3 linked regions of the Homo sapiens genome follow. The protein of the gene in region 3 purifies or fractionates together with the protein of the main gene of each other region. This does not show direct contact. Each region holds a gene or a part of one and is shown on either strand. Other genes may lie near its edges.

Region 1 (3,655 bases), on a different chromosome or scaffold from region 3:
TTCGTTTTCCCGTAATTATGCTGTTTAACTGCCTTATTTTTTTGAATAAATATATGCAAACGCGCCAATCATATTCAGCACAGTTATGCTAGATGCTCAATGAACTGTAAGAACCATTTCACTACAATAAAACTGCTTGGAATAGATCCAGGGCAAGGCCTACAAATACCAGTAATCAGAATGTCACTAGGACCAGAACAGATGAATAGAAGTATGTCATATATATATATATATATATATATATATATATATATTTTTTTTTTTTTTTTTTTTTTTTTTTTTTCTCTCAAACACTGTCTGAAACCAATTTTATAGTCTATCCCCGGAAGAACTTGGTACATACAAGCAAAGGATGCCACCCACAGAGCCACAATTTTTCATCTATATTTTGTTATGGGATTTTTGCGTGTTTTTTTTCTTTTTTTTTGCTTTACCTTAAATATATTGATCTTAGTATTTCTGCAGTAGCAAGGAAATAAAAGCATGCTTCTGCTTAGTCACAGTAGGGATGTTGATGTCATTAAGGACTTCTTTATTGTAGATAACTTATTCCAGAAGACCAAAGATCGCAGTATATCATTGTCAAAGCTAGTGGTGAAAGCTTATGACTAACTATAAAATACTGTATGTCATTGAAGAAAATTATTGTCAAAGCCTCCTTTACTAAAGTAGGTTGACAATAGGTTAATGCAGGTCTGACGAAGTTTAAAAGTGCTTTGTAGGTGGGTTGCAGAAGTCACATTATCTTCAAAATGATAGGCAAAAGGAACTTTATGCTATTCTCTAACTAATATACAGTCATTGATTGAAGGAATTTAATACACAAAAAATCCCTCCCTAATGGCTTTACTAAAATACAACCTTAAGATAATGCCCTATGGGATTTATTAAACAGAAGTACCACTGAGGGGAATACATTCTAGTGCAATGACTAATATTGTAATTAGCGGGTGCATTTGTAAGAATTTACCCACTATTGAGTGTATTGCAAGACTTCTCAGCATTAGGGAGTTAAGTTTTACTTCCTAACTGGCATGGGCCCAGTTATAGTGGCTTCTTCTTCCTCCTGTTGTTGTTTCATCATCAGGCTCACAGCATACATTCTCACATGCTTCCAGCTCTCCTGCCATCTTCTCAAAAGAATCAGGAACTTGGGTGAGATTTTTGTTTCTCTTCGTCTACATAGGCTTCAACCTATTGCCCACTGAAGGCCACGTGTTAAGTCCCCCCGCTCTAGGGTCACTAGCTCTATTTTATGGGACTTCAAATTGTTTGAAACTTTAAAACAGTAAAATAAAGCTTCAACATATTTTCAAAGAAAAATAAAAGCTTGAGCTGTTCCTTAGAGAAGAAATACTTTTGAACTAAAATGTATAAAATTGGACTAGTATTTGTGCTTGAGCAAGTACTTACATACACTATATTGAAAATATAAAGACATATACATTTATACACATATTTAAATTTACCAAAAAATTATTTGTATATTTTCATAAATACAGGCATAGCCAAATTTCACTGCAATAAATGCATGTGAATTTTCATTAATCTTAAATATATTTTTTCTTAATGTATGCCCTTTATATTTGTAGATACATTTCTATTGTGTTATAGTACATAAGCAGCAAGCAGCACTAACAGTGAAAAACTTGAAACCTGAAACCCAAGAATAGTCCTGAAACATGATAAAATATAAATGCTATATTTTTAAACAGGATTAAATATTACCTGAAATTTTTGAAGGTTTTTTCCTCTTAAAATATGTGTATTTCTTAGTTTTTTGAAGAGAGATGATATTTGGGATTATTTTAACCTCATATACAAAATCTGCATCTATGCACTTGAAAAAAGTGAATGATATATGTTATAGCATCAACTTTATGGAGAAAACATTCTGGAAAATTGGGGGATTTTGTGTGTTTAGTATGTTGAACAATATAGTCAAAGGTGGTAATGTAAATTTTCTCATGACTGAAACAGTATATTCAGGTAGTTGAGGTAACAATTTTAGGGCATACTTTTCTATGCCGATCTTTTCATGATCACACACAGCCTTAAATAACATGAAGATGCCAAGACTAAAATTCCAAATTTTTTGGCATATACTTACATATGGTAATATTTATTGAAATTATAGAACTCACACAACTCAAGTAAAATTAAAAATTATCTTACTCCTGACATTTTCAAAAGACTGAAGGATTATAATCTCAATACAAGAATGGTAAAATATTACCTAGCTTGCATTTTGAAAATTTTATCGAAAACCAAAAGCTAATGGAATCAAGAAGTTAATACATTACAAAGAGTTATATTAGTTAATATTAAAAACAAGATTCTCTGGTTTCTAGCTTTATACTTTCTGTGTTTTCATTTATTGGGAAATAGAGAAATGCCACATTAAAATTGGAGCTAAAATTTTCATAAATGCATATAAAAATAAAAGTAACAATATAATAATGATGATAACAATTTTTGGACTTTTAGGGGTTATAAACTCTTCTCCAAAAAAACTCTAAACATTGAATATCTGATTATATTTTAAATTAAGTTTATTTACTTTACACTACTTTTAATGCCTGATAAAACAGAAAAAGAAATATGTAATTATTGTGTACTCTCAAGTAGGAATTACTCATTCTACCTTTTCAAAATATTTAAGAAAAAGGATGAGTGAACTAAACAATCCAGAAGGCACAGAGTAAGAAAGGGACATTCCTTTCCTACTCAAGATACCAGAATGCCTACAAGTAGAGATGTATATATAGTTTATGGAAACTAATGCATATACTAATTAAAGAGCTGTCTTAGAATAAAAATCATAGCAAAATATCTCCAAAATTATAAATACCAAAATAAATTGTTCACGCACTTTGTATTTGTTACTGAAATCATTAATAGGCTAGAGTATGAAATTTTGAAGATCATGATCTTGGGAACTTATCTGAATAAGTCCCCATAGTGAAGATCTTCCTGTACTAGAGCAAAGTGGGAATAAAGGCATACAGCGGGTAATGTTGCTATTAAAGATGGAGTCTCCTTTCACCTTTTTACTCTGCAATATTGAGTTTATTGTTTACACTATGATACGTTAGTCCTCTACACTTCAATATCATTTTTATATATTTGGATTGGCTCTAGGTATTTACCATATGCTTAATTCCCTGTTATTGAAAAGGCCATGTACATCTATCAAAAGGATTTTATCTTCCTAGCATAAAGACTCTAAAGTCAACCCAAATGTGAATCGTTTGAAATTGATTTGTAAAACACTGAGTAAGAATGTATTCCTTTTCAAAATTTATTTTAGTAGATCTTATTCTGCTGGCTCAATGTATTTCCTTCTATGAGAGCATATTAAAATGATTTGTAGTAGTGCTACAAAAAATGTGAAAACACAGATGTTCAAACAAAACTGGGAAGTCTCCCATCAGTGAGAAGTCCCCAGCCTCCTCCTCTCTTTCCTACAAGGCCTTCATTGAAAACACCTGTTGAGAAGTCACCCTGAGACTTAGCACTTAATTCTTGATAAATCACGATAAGCAGTTATTCTTGAGAACTAGTAATAAACTCTTTACTTGACTTTAGATTTCATATTAACACATAAAATAATTCACAGGAATATTGCTCCTATAAAAAGTGCTCTTATAAATTT
Region 2 (2,677 bases), on a different chromosome or scaffold from region 3:
GTCTTCGCTGGAGGCCCTTTGTGGGTCCGTGATGATCGGAGGTGTTCTGTGCCTGTGTTTCTATGTCAGTCTGAACGTTCGGGGTTGTGAGTACCTGTTGTACTCTACATGTCTCTTGAGTATTTGTGTCACTTGACTCTAGGTCTGTGTCTCTTCCTATTCGTGGCGGGTATCTGCCTGAGCATGTTTGTAAATATGCTTGTGTCTGTGTAATTCTGTGTGTCTGTGTTACTCTATGCGTCTGAGTTTCAGTCTCTGTATTTGTGACCAGGTCCTCCTGGGTGTGTCCATTAATTCATGTGTCTGTTAGTTTGCGGCGGAACAGGTGTGTGTGTGTGTGTGTGTGTCTGTGATCCTGGATCTGTATGCCAGTTCCTCACTGGGGGTTTCTGAGAACCTGCATCTCTTTGCTTGTATGTCTTTTTGTCTATCTGTGTGTTCATTTCTACCCTCTCTAGTGAGGACAGAATTCCAAGACCCTACCAAGCCCTTCTTTTTTCTGATGGGGGAACTGAATTGCCAGGGAATGGGGCCACATCACAGCTAAAAGGAGACAAGAGGAGACAGAAGCTCGTTGATATACAAAGTTTTATGTGACCTGAGCCCCTCTGGAGGCACCAGAGTCCACACTCTGTACTCAGAAGGTGAGGGATTGGCTCACGGGGGCAACATGGCCCGAAAGGTGGGAGATCGTCCATCCCCTGCGGGAAAGGAGGCATCCCTAATGCATTGCACAGGCTTGAAGGGGGCACACCCCCACAGTTGGGGAGGAGGAAGCAATGATAGCTAAGAAGGAGAGGGGCACCCCAAAGAATACTACAGTATAGGGTTAGAACCTTGAAATTGCACCTAATAGTCTAGACCTGTGGACCTTTAGAATCTTAGAAACTTAGAACATTTGAGTCTTAGAACTACAGTGCCTAGAACTATAAGATTTTAGAAATGTGGATTCTTGGACTCTTAACCATGGTCCTAGAGAGGCAGAATGCAGCAAAGAACCTAAAGGTGTCCAACATTAGAAATTATTAGAACTTTGGTGTCTAGTTAGTCACAACTGAGTGTGAGAGTCTTATAACTTAGATGCTTAGGATCCGGAATCTTGGACCAATGGAATCTAGAGTGCCTTGAAACAGAACAGACCGTTAGAATCTTATTTAATCATCTAGAATCTTGGAGCATCTGATCTAGAATCTTAGACACAGAGAATCTAAGATCTTAGAGTAAGTCTTAGAATATCACATCTTAGAACACCGGACCTTAGAAACTCCATCTTTAGACTCTTGGAACTTTTGAATTGCAGATTCTAGAGCTTTCGACCCTTAGGATCTAGGATCTTATACAAGAGAATCTATTATCATAAAGCCTCAGAAACTATAATTGATCATCATTAGAATCTTAGAACTTGAGAAGATAACATTTTGAAGCCTTATGATCTAGAGCCTTACAGCCAGAGAATCTAGACTCTCAGAGCCTTAGAACATCACATTTTAGAATCCTAGGCCTTAGAACCTCCATGTCTAGAACTATAGAATCTTTAGAATCTATAATCTTACATTTTAAGGACTCTGAACTCTAGAAGAATAAACATCTAGACTCATAGAGCCTTAGCTCCTAAAATCAGAATCTTAGAACTTTAGAACCTAAAACCTTGAGGCTTTATCAAAAATGTTAGAACCAGAAAATCTAAAACCACATAATGTCAGAGCTTTAGAACAGTAGGTCTTAAGGTTGAGTGCAGTGGCTCATGCCTGTAATCTCAGCACTTTGGGAGGCTGAGGTGGGCAGATCACTTGAGGTCAGGAGTTTTAGACCAGCCTGGCCAACATGGTGAAACCCTGTCTCTACTAAAAATATAAAAATTAGCCGGGTGTGGTGGCACACACCTGTAATCCCAGCTACTTGGGAGGCCAAGGCAGGAAAATCACTTGAACTCGGTAGGTGAAGGTTGCAGTGAGGCGAGATTGCACCACTGCACTCCAGCCTGGGTGACACAGTGAGACTCTATCGCAAAAAAAAAAAAAAAAAAAAAAAAAAAAAAAGTAGGCCTTAGAACCTTAGCACTTTAATAGAATTAGAGACTTTGGAATTTCAGGTCCTTAGAACCAAAGACTCACAGCATCTTTGAAACCTAGAACCTTTGAATCTAGACTCTTTAAACCTTGGACTCTAGAGTCTTGGAATGTTAACACCTGGGAGGGCTTCAGATATTGCAATCCAACCCCTTCCTTTTACAGATGGTGATGCTACTGCTTTCAAGGTGATGCTACTGCACAGAGAAGGGGAGGGACCTGTCTGGGATGGAGGTGGGATAGGTAGGAAGACAGGGCTGCAAGTGGGGATAAGGCGTGGGGTGGGAAAGTGGGAAGGTGGAGTTTTCCCCAGTGGCAGTGCTTAGCTTGGATCCTGAGAGGGAGTACCAGGTGGAGGGTTGTCTCAGGCACCATCCTCCTGCCCTGGGGCTGCTGGGGAGCCCCTATCAGCAGGCTGAGCGGGGCTAGGGGTTGTGGAAGGGCAGAGGACATAGCGTCCAGCAGGATGGACCTCAGCCGCAGTGAGGCAGCTACAGGAATCCTTAGGGTCTGGCTGGGTTGGGGGGTCAGCTCCTCCTGCAGCTCCAGGGGGTTCAGGATAACCTCCACCCTCATCCATGTTGACATAGAGGATTTCGTCAGGCTCC
Region 3 (3,755 bases):
ATGAAGTCCAGTGACAGCACACTGGCTGGTGGTGGGAAAATCCGACCCCCCGACCCTCTGAAGTCCCTGCAGATACCCTCAGCCCTTGAGAATCCTCCAGTCCAGGAGCAGGACCACTAACAACATGCGTCAAATGCACTTACAAAGCAGCACCCTGGCTCAGGCTCAGGAGGTGGCACTATCAATCCCATTTTACCAACAAGGGAAACTGAGGCACAGGGAGGTGGAGGGACCAATAAATGGTAGAGTGCGGATGCACAGACCCAGGTCTAGGTGAAGTCCAGCAGGCCACAGCTGCCTTGGGGGTGTGGGCTACGGAGCCTCCATGCTGGGGTCAGGGTGCTTTTTACTGAAGAGTATCCAGTCTCTGTGTCTGGGAAAGAACATGGGACTGGGTGCGCACACACACACACACCCTGTGCCCATGGCCGACCCTTCAGCCAGATATGTGACAGCCCTCAGCTCTTCCTGCCCCTCACACCTACCAGGGCCCCCTCACTGCTGGCCCAGCTAGGCAGCGTCCCCTCCCAGGCACGGGCCCTGTCAGCTCAGGCCATTTCCATTTTAAACCTTCTGAGGAAGCCCTGAACAGTCGCCCACGGAGTCAGCACCAGCTGACAGGTGATGTCTGCGCCTCTCCTCCCGGGGCTGGCGGAAGAGATGCAGTAGCTTTCAACTCCAGAAACTGGAATCTGGAGCCCCTGAGCGCGGCGGCTGCCTCCCCCGCGGCCGCCGGGCAGAGACAGGGTGCCTCAGCCACCTCCCTCCACAGTGGCATCGTGGGTCCCCCCCACAGACAGCCTCCTTCCTAACTCCTGAGCCACCTGGGGAGGGGGATGTGGAGGGGCTGGTTTCCATCCAACCCGAGGGCGTAGGGGCCGCGGTGAGGCAGGGCTGTTCTCAGTCACCCCTCACCTCCGTCCCCAGCCTTGGCTGTATTTATTCACATCAGAGCTCTGGCTTGGGCCTCGGGGGCCTGGCACACCCCAGCTGGGCTGTATTCTCTCAAAACTGCCCACCCTGGAGGGCCTCGAAGACCTCCCGGGGCCACCGGGAAGGCTGTGGCAGCTCCCTGGTGTCCCTGTTCCACAACTTTCTCCTCCTCGGGGAGCTCTGATCAACCACGGTTCCCTGCAGCTGGGCGACAACACTCCCCAGCCTTCCTCCCCGGGGTCTCCAGTGCCCGCGAGGAGGGGCGTGCGCCGCCGGGTCGGGCCGCCTCCTTGTCTTGAGAGCTGGGGGATGGGGGGTGCCCGCCGCCCCCCGCCCAGGCACCATGGTCTCACCGTTCCAGCCGCCAGGTGTACGGCCCCAGCCCCCGCCCGGCTCAGGGCTGACGGTCCACAGCGCGCACAGGGAGGGAAGTTGGAGGCTGCTCATGCCCCCCTTGAAGTCGTTTTAAAAATAAAACCTCGCTCCAACCGTGACTCACGCGGCTGGTGGGGACGGGAGCGCGGCGCCCAGGCCGGCCGGCTGTCCCTGGCCGCGCGCCCTCCTCCGGTTCCCGAGTGCGGGAGCTGGGACCCACATGACCGGCCTGACGCCCCCCACGGGCCAGGCCCCCTCCCTGGGGGGTGCAGCGAGGGCTTGGACTAGAGCTCCAGCTGAGCCCCCGCCCTTTCCAGCCTCGGCTCGGGAGAGCTGAGCCGCCGGCCGCGCACCCCGCGCCTCCCCGCGGCGGGGCCAGCGCCACCGCTACTGGTGCTTGGCTCTTGACTCAGGGACCCCCACCCCAAATCCCAAAGGCTGGGCGTCCCATCTCCCGCCGCTCTGGGGCAAAGCCAGGCTGCCTGACCCCGTGGCGCTTCGGTGCCCCCGGGCCCCCGGCCCCCGCCCCGTCGGCTCTGGCGCCCTGTCCCAGACGCGCGGACCCCGACCCCCGCCCGGTGCAGCCAGCCCTACCTGCGCAGCGGCCGGGGAGGCGGGTCTCCTCGGGAAACTTTGCGGTGACGGCTGGAGCCTCAGGGGTTATTCCAAGGAGCGGGCGGGAACCAGAGCCGGAGGGCGCCCAGGGGGGCCCGGGAGAGGAGCCCCCGGCGCGCGGCAGAGCACGGTGGCGGGCCCGGAGCGGGGGGCGCGCGGCGGCGCATCTGCCCGGCTCGGGCGCCCGGCGGAGCCGCGGGAGGAGTGCGGGGGGTGCGTCCAGCGGCGGGGTGCGTGTGCCCGGGCGGGTGCGCTCGGCGGCGGGGCGGGGACCAGCGGCGGTGCCCGCGCGAGCGGCGGCGGCGAGCAGGGCGCGGGGAACCAGGCTGTGCGGCCGCCTCTCCCCTCGCGGCGGCGGCGGCGGGGGCCGTGCGTGCAGGCGCGGAGCGGGGAGGGAGAGGAGGAGGAGGGGAGGGGGAGGAGGACGGGGGCGCCGCGCTGCGCACTGGCCGGCGGGACCCGGCGCGGGAGGCTGCGCCGCCGCGCGGGGATTCTGGCCCAGCCGGGGAGAAGCGGCCTCCGCGCCCCCCTCCCCCGCCCTCGGCTAAACTGGCTGGGGGAAGGGCGGGTGGGGGAGCCGACCCCTCTGGGGAGTTGGGGGAGGGAGGCTCCCAAAGCCAACCTCCACCGTGGAGGCGGGGGAGAAAGGGGTTCTAGCTCACGCGCCGCCTCCCCAGCACCCTCCTCTCCGCACCCACTCATTCAACCATCCCTCCAGCCATCCATTCATTCATTCATTCATTCATCCGTCCACCCGTGCATTCATTCACAAACAGGTACCCACCGCCTACTCTGCATGCCAAAGTAACCCCTTCCTTCCTGCCTGGCGCCCCTTCCCTGGGCAGACCCTCTCATCCGCCGCGTGCTGTAAACACCCGGGCGCTCCCCAGCAATACCCCTCCCACCTATTAAGGGGGCAGTGCCAGGGTCCCATGCCAGCGCCCCCTCCCATCCCCAGCTGACTGTGACCTTGGCCAAGTTGCTGAACCTCTCCCAGCCTCAGTGTCCTGGATTGTGAAATGGGACCGTTACTACCTAGCTCCAAAGGTTACTGTGAGAGATGAAGAAGACCTTGAATGGGAGGGTGGCTGGCCCAGTGCCTGGCACCTATTAGAGACTGGGAAGATGTTCATGCCTGTGGGTGGCATCCGGGTGGGGTGAGGGAGTGTTTAGACCAGACAGCCTCCTCTTAGCCTGAAAGTCCCCGTGCTCTTGGCATTCGCTGGGACACTAAGTAAGGGACTCTCCCATATACCCAGCCTGGCCTGCCCTGGTCAGACCTCATCACCTTGTCAGTGGCTGCTCTGAGTCCCAAGCCTGCCCAGAGCCCCCACCAGGGCCCCAGTGCTCCTGATCCACCCTCAGACCGCCCACAGTCTGGCTGGGACCCCCTCTGCCGGCCCTGCTCTTTGCTGTCCATCGAGGCCTGGGGGCCACCTCCCCTCTGGGATGCCCTCCCAGATCCCCTTGGGGAGGGTCCCCCCTACAGAGACTCCAGCACCTCTCCCCCTCCTTTCCCTGTGCAAACCCAGCCCTCTTGCGCCCAGTCCGGGAACAGACTGGGGCCTAGCCTGAGGCCGCCGCCTCTGGCCTCTGTGCGCTCTGCATGCGCCTGTCTTTGCCCTTCCTGCCTCTCCCTCCTCACTTCACCCTTCTAATTTCCCTCCCCTTAACTCCCTTTCTTCTTTCTCCCAATTTCTACTCAATTCACCAAACAGCTATTTTTTCCTCCCAATTTTTATTTATTGCCCAAACAGCATTATACCAACAATAAAAGAAAGAAAAATCACCCACAATGCCACCGCCCTGTGGCGTCAACAGCTTCCGTTCCT

What was found.
Region 1: the proteins of FLRT1 (region 3) and PCDH17 purify together in Homo sapiens (affinity purification with mass spectrometry; 2 studies listed by BioGRID and IntAct, with this or other methods). This does not show direct contact.
Region 2: the proteins of FLRT1 (region 3) and AXL purify together in Homo sapiens (affinity purification with mass spectrometry; one large-scale study listed by BioGRID and IntAct). This does not show direct contact.

The regions. Positions count from the first base shown.
Region 1 is NC_000013.11:57,638,187-57,641,841, reverse strand, and holds part of PCDH17 (protocadherin-17 precursor), read right to left. Parts: intron 1-3,655. UniProt on the Homo sapiens protein: Potential calcium-dependent cell-adhesion protein.
Region 2 is NC_000019.10:41,259,661-41,262,337, reverse strand, and holds the end of AXL (tyrosine-protein kinase receptor UFO isoform 1 precursor), read right to left. Parts: coding exon 2,434-2,677; 3' UTR 572-2,433; downstream 1-571. UniProt on the Homo sapiens protein: Receptor tyrosine kinase that transduces signals from the extracellular matrix into the cytoplasm by binding growth factor GAS6 and which is thus regulating many physiological processes including cell survival, cell proliferation, migration and differentiation.
Region 3 is NC_000011.10:64,034,307-64,038,061, reverse strand, and holds the start of FLRT1 (leucine-rich repeat transmembrane protein FLRT1), read right to left. Parts: upstream 2,132-3,755; 5' UTR 1,903-2,131; intron 1,381-1,902; exon of another isoform or gene 1,287-1,380; intron 1-1,286.